Linked DNA regions of Homo sapiens: region 2 is linked to region 1. The links come from fine-mapping of genetic effects on gene expression. A gene starts in region 1. The other region holds a variant in brackets. All regions are shown on one strand. Distances are between the middles of the regions. Region 1 holds the start of FFAR2 (free fatty acid receptor 2). Region 2 has its middle 15 kb from the start of LINC01531.

Evidence for each region. PIP is the estimated chance that this variant, and not a neighbour inherited with it, causes the effect. A credible set is the group of variants that fine-mapping cannot tell apart.
Region 2: its variant is the best candidate, but not a certain one, in a credible set for the expression of FFAR2 in whole blood (TOPMed, PIP 0.68).

Annotation. Positions count from the first base shown.
Region 1 is chr19:35,447,036-35,449,941 of GRCh38, forward strand. It overlaps FFAR2 (free fatty acid receptor 2), which reads left to right and starts at 1,222. Exons shown (of 2, transcript NM_001370087.1): 1 at 1,222-1,344; 2 at 2,679-2,906. The coding sequence starts at 2,680.
Region 2 is chr19:35,419,088-35,421,993 of GRCh38, forward strand. No RefSeq gene overlaps it. Among named protein-coding and RNA genes, the nearest start is that of LINC01531, 15 kb to the left of the region's middle. The variant G/C (reference allele first, on the strand shown) is at 1,144.

The DNA.
Region 1 (2,906 bases):
AACGATCCTTGCTGCATTAGGTGTGTATTTCAAAGGGACCTTCAGGAGCTCCTAACCTGGGGCTACCAAGGTCAGAGAGGGGGAAACAGTGAGACTTTATCAGGGAAAGGAATGGAGCCTGAGTGCCACTCCCTGACGAAAAGCCACATGGGCACGTGAACTCGGGCCTCCTGAATTCCTGACACTTTCCCAAGAGGGACAGCACATCCATGCCCTGAGCCTCTGGAGGCTGCACCAAGTGGCTCACTCTCTGTGAAGCTGCGTTACAGGCTTGAGACGAGGCAGCACTTACGGGCATCTGCTAAGTGCTTTATATACACAACCTCACTGAATCCTCGCAGAAGTCCTAGGATGTCAGAATTCGCATGCTCACTTGACTACAGCAAACTAGACTTCAGAAAACGGATCTGCCCCCAAGGTTGTAATGAAGGGACCTGGATTTGAGCCCATATCTGCATGACTATAACTCCCACACCATTTCCATCACAACAAGATGCAGGCCAGGACCAGCCTGTTTCAGCTGAGACGGGCAAAAGAAATGTGTTGGGGGCAGAGGGCAGGAGACCATAGAGAAAGTAAAAAAATTGAAGAAGAAAAGGAAGGAGTGCCGGGTGCAGTGGCTCACGCCTGTAATCGCAGCACTTTGGGAGGCCAAGGCAGGCGGATCACTTGAGGTCAGGAGTGCAAGACCAGCCAACATGGTGAAACCCTGTCTCTACTAAAAATACAGAAATTAGCTGGGCGTGGTGGCAGGTGCCTGTCATCCCAGGGAGGCTGACGCAGGAGAATCGCTTGGACTCGGGAGGCAGAGGTTGCAGTGAGCTGAGATGGCGCCACTGCACTCCAGCCTAGACAACAGAGCAAGATTCAGCCTCGAAAAAAAAAACCAAAAAAAAAGAGGAAAAATAAAAAGGAAGGAGGAAAGCTCATTTCTGAGAATGAGCAGAATGACAGAAGAAACTGCCTAAGAAAGAGAAAAGAAAATAATCTGACTTGGGAAGTAAAAAAAGAAAAATGCCTGGGAATTTTTTTTTTAAATCAGGAATTAAGGACAGAAAAATCTGAATTTGGAAGTCAAGAGTGAGGATTCTCTAGGGAGAGAATAAAGATGCTGGGCCTTTCCTTTGGGTTTGAGAGGAAATAGTGCTTAAAGACTGACCTTCCTTTCTCTGGTCACGTGGCTGGTGCTAGTATAAATGCTTACTACCAGCCAGGTTCCTCACCATTTTTTCCTGCATGGCATGGACAGAAGCAGGGGCTAAAGCTCTGTTCCTCTCTCCTGGAAGCTTGCAGACCTCCCTTCAGAACCAATCCCAAGAAGCCACCTATCCGGAACAACACAAGGCAAGGCAGCTAGTGTAGTGCTTGTGCTCTGGGAAGAGAGGCCAGGATCAGGTTTGAGGGGAAGGTTCTGGGAGACTGGAGGAAGGATGTCAGAACCAAATGGAAGACTCATACCCAGAGACAGGAGCTAGTGTGAGGAGCAAGGAAACAGCCAGGAAATCAAGGCTGGAGAGTGGACAGAGGGACAGGACCTGGGTTGGGGCCAGCAAGGGTGACACCCCAAGTGGAAACTGAGTTACCCCGTGAAGAAGACGAGTTCTATTTATGGTCAGAATGCCACGCTCAAGGGCCAGTGAAGGCCTGTGGGCTTTTCTGAATATTTCTCTAAGGTCTTCTAGGGACAAGCCTTCCTCCTAAGGCTAGTGCTGGTTCATCCTTCTTCCCCTCCACCCTCCTCTAAGCCTCCCAGCTTCCCCTTTTCTTTTCTTTTTTTTTTTTTTTAGACGGAGTTTTTGCTCTTACCGCCCAGGGTGGAGTGCAATGGCGCAATCTTGACTCACTGCAACCTCTGCTTCCCGGTTCAAGCGATTCTCCTGCCTCAGCCTACCAAGTAGCTGGGATTACAGGTGCCCGCCATATCACCCGGCTAATTTTTTTTTTTTTTAGTGGAGATGGGGTTTCACCACGTTGGCCAGGCTTGTTTCGAACTCCTGACTTCAGGTGATCTGCCCGCCTCGGCCTCCCAAAGTGCTGGGATTACAGAAGTGAGCCACTGCGCCCAGCCCCAGCTTCCCCTTTTCTAGAGAGTCCCAGAGTTTGGTGTTGGACAGGAGAGGACAAGGTGGGGGAGAATCTGTGCTCTGCAAAACAGACGAACGGAAGTAGGAAGCTGGGCTGGTGGCTGGGCACTTGGGTCCTTTGGAGAGCTGGCACTGGGTATCCGCGCCTGGGGCGCCACAGCCTCTTTATACTGATAAGCATCTTACAGCTCTCTCCCGGCACTGATGCCTTTCTCTCCTGCAGGTCTCTGTCTGAGAAAGGGACTTGAGTAAAGTTAGAAACTGGCAACAGTAACTTCCTGTATCTGTGAGGACAGGAGGAGAAAGGCTAGGGAAACTGGAGGGGGAATTCCCTTGGGAAGCCACGAGTTGGTCTCCTCCAGAGACACATGATGGCAAACATAATCACTACTGCTTAATATCCCGCCCCAGGCAAAGTCAATAATTGCTCTGGGTAGTTCGAGCAGGTGGTGTGAGCAAGCCGTGGTGGCATCAGAAAGCACAGTCCTGGGAAGGGGACGGTGCCGGGGAGGATGTCCGCATCCTGAAGGAGAGCTGGCTGCGCGGGCTGTGAGTGAGACCTCCCTGACCCCGCCCTTTTTTGTTCCCCTCCAGGATGCTGCCGGACTGGAAGAGCTCCTTGATCCTCATGGCTTACATCATCATCTTCCTCACTGGCCTCCCTGCCAACCTCCTGGCCCTGCGGGCCTTTGTGGGGCGGATCCGCCAGCCCCAGCCTGCACCTGTGCACATCCTCCTGCTGAGCCTGACGCTGGCCGACCTCCTCCTGCTGCTGCTGCTGCCCTTCAAGATCATCGAGGCTGCGTCGAACTTCCGCTGGTA
Region 2 (2,906 bases), 28 kb before region 1:
CCCAGACTTGGCAATCTCAGTCCATCTAGAGTCAATCTTTTCTAGACTCTTCTAGACTAATTCAGAAAGCAGCTTTCTCTTTCCACAGGGTGGTTAGGAAGGTAGAAGGTAATCCTGGAGCTTCCCGCCACCACGCAGGAGGAATTTGCCTGAGAGCAAAGCCAGCATAGAGAAGCAGAGCTGAGTCATGGAGACAGGTGGCTGAAAGTTTCATTTCGGCATATGGATCTCACCATTCCTGAAGCCACTTTCAACTCTTCAATTTCATAGCTAATAAATTCTCATTTTTGCACAATTAGCTGAAGCAAGGTTTTTTGTTACCTGGAAGCAATGAATGCAAATGTTTTTTAGGTAATTTGTTAATAGTAATAAAAGATAAAGAATATAATAATAAAGAATAGGGGCATTTCCAGGGCCGGGCACAGTGGCTCACACCTGTAATCCCAGTACTTTGGGAGGCCGAGGCGGGCAGATCACTTGAGGTCAGGAGTTGGAGAACAGCCTGGCAAAACCCCGTCTCTCCTAAAAATACAAGAATTAGCCAGGCGCAGTGGCACACACCTGTAATCCCAGCTACTTGGGAGGCTGAGGCAGGAGAATCGCTTGAACCCGGGAGGCAGAGGTTGCAGTGAGTCAAGATCACACCACTGCACTCTAGCCTGGGAGATGGAGCAAGACTACATCTCAAAAAAGAAAAAGAATAAAGTCATTTCTGAATTGTATCTTTTATGATTTTAAAAAATGAATCAGAGAAGATTCAAGGCACATTCTGACATGCAAGGGTTACAGTCACAGCCCATGGGCCAGGCATGGCACTTCACCCCAGTATGCTGGCGACGGCCCTCTCTGCACCAATAAATCAGATGCCTGCTTAACAACTATTTCAATCAGAAGTGCATTCTGCAGTTTTGAAAGTTTCCACACGTATTATCACTCCTCAGTCATAAAACAATCTGATGAAGTTAGTTTCTAATGCCTTTTTTTTTTTTTTTTTTGAGACAAAGTCTCGGTCTGTCACCCAGGCCAGAGTGCAATGGCATGATCTTGGCTCACTGCAGCCTCCGCAGTTCAAACAATTCTCCTGCCTGAGCCTCCTGAGTAGCTGGGATTACAGGTGTGCACCACCATGCCCAGCTAATATTT[G/C]TATTTTTAGTAGAGACGGGGTTTCACCATGTTGGCCAGGCTGGTCTCGAATTCCTGACCTCAAATGATCTGCCAACCTCGGCCTCCCAAAGTGCTGGTATGACAGGCCTGAGCCACTGCACCTGGCTCTGACCACACGTCTTCCATCAAGGACTTACATCATTCTTTTTGGCCACCCAGAACCTCTGAACTCCCTGCCTGTGAATCTACGCCTGCCCAAGGGAGAAGCAGAAACTTGCTTTCTCAGAGTCGGCTCCCATGTAGGGCACAGGCATGTGACCAAAGTCCAGCCAGTTACCAAGCCCAGGTGGGGGCAGTGCAGCATAGCTGTGACGTTAGGCCCGGAGGCCACTCTAGGGAGCTGGCAGCACACAGCCAGCTGCCAGGGCGGCAGAGAGAGGTGCCGAGGGTGTGGCAGCAGTGCCCAGCGTGTGAACCGCAGAGTGTGCGCCAGTGGTGGAGGTGGTGGTGTCTGCAAGGGTATCATCCAGGCATACCCTCCAAGCCTGGTGTTCTGGCTGGCCTGGAGATTCCACAAGCTACCTAATACCCTTTAAAAACAAAATTCCTAGGCTGGGTGGGATGGCTCACGCCTGTAATCACAGTGTCTGGGGAGGCCGAGATGGGAGGATGGCTCCAAGTGAGAGGATCTCTGGAGGCCAGGAGTTTGAGATCAGCCTGGGCAACATAGTGAGATCCCATCTCTATAAAAATAATTTTAAAATAAAATAAATAGGCCGGGCATGGTAAGCTCACACCTGTGATCCCAGCACTTTGGGAGGCCAAGGCAGGCAGATCACCTGAGGTCAGGAGTTCGAGACCAGCCTGGCCAACATGATGAAACCCTGTCTCTACTAAAAATACAAAAATTAGCCGGGTGTGATGGTGGGCGCCTATAATCCCAGCTACTTGAGAGGCTGAGGTGGGAGAATGCTTGAACCTGGAAGGCAGAGATTGCAGTGAGCCAAGTTCGCACCACTGCTCTCCAGCCTGGGCGATAGAGCAAGACTCCATCTCAAAAAAAGTAAAAAATAAATAAAATAAATAAGAACAAAATTCCTTTTCCGCTTAACCTGACAAGAGGAGAGTCTGCTGTCTGTAGTGGGAAACCTGACAGATACAATCAGGAGAGCATCCAAGGTCTCCAGGCGGACAGTCCTCTGCAGCTGCATCCTGTCTGTGCCATTGGTCCCTCTGCCAGCCTCTTGGCCATGTGTGTAGCCTGGGAAGAATGCTGCCCTGCTCCACCTGCTGTGGCAACTGCCACTATGCGAGATGGCCAGGCTGCTCCAGCTCCCACAGTGGCTCGTGGTCTGTGCCTCCGTCAGTCTGGCTTCTCCTGGGGCAGCGGCTACCGGCTGGACTCTGGCCCAGGAACAGGGCTTTCCCTGTGCTCGCCTGCACCTCGCACCATGGTCCTGGCCCCACGACGACTGAATCTGCCAGTCTCCACTCCCCTGTGCACTTTCTGCACTACAGCAGTGGGATGTGGTGACAGGAACACTAAAGGATTGAATGCCGGGATCCTGGAGGGAAATTGAAGCTGCTGGTGCTTCTGCCTGGGTCCTAGGGGAGCAGGAAACACTGTGGAGTACTTACTGTGGGCTCAGCACAGTTCCATTTTAATTGACAAATAATAATTGTATCTATGTATGGGATACAATATGATGTTTTGATCCATGTTTACAACGTGGAATGATTAAATCAGGCCAATTAAACACATCCATCACCTCACATACTCATCCTTTTCTTGCAGTGTAAAC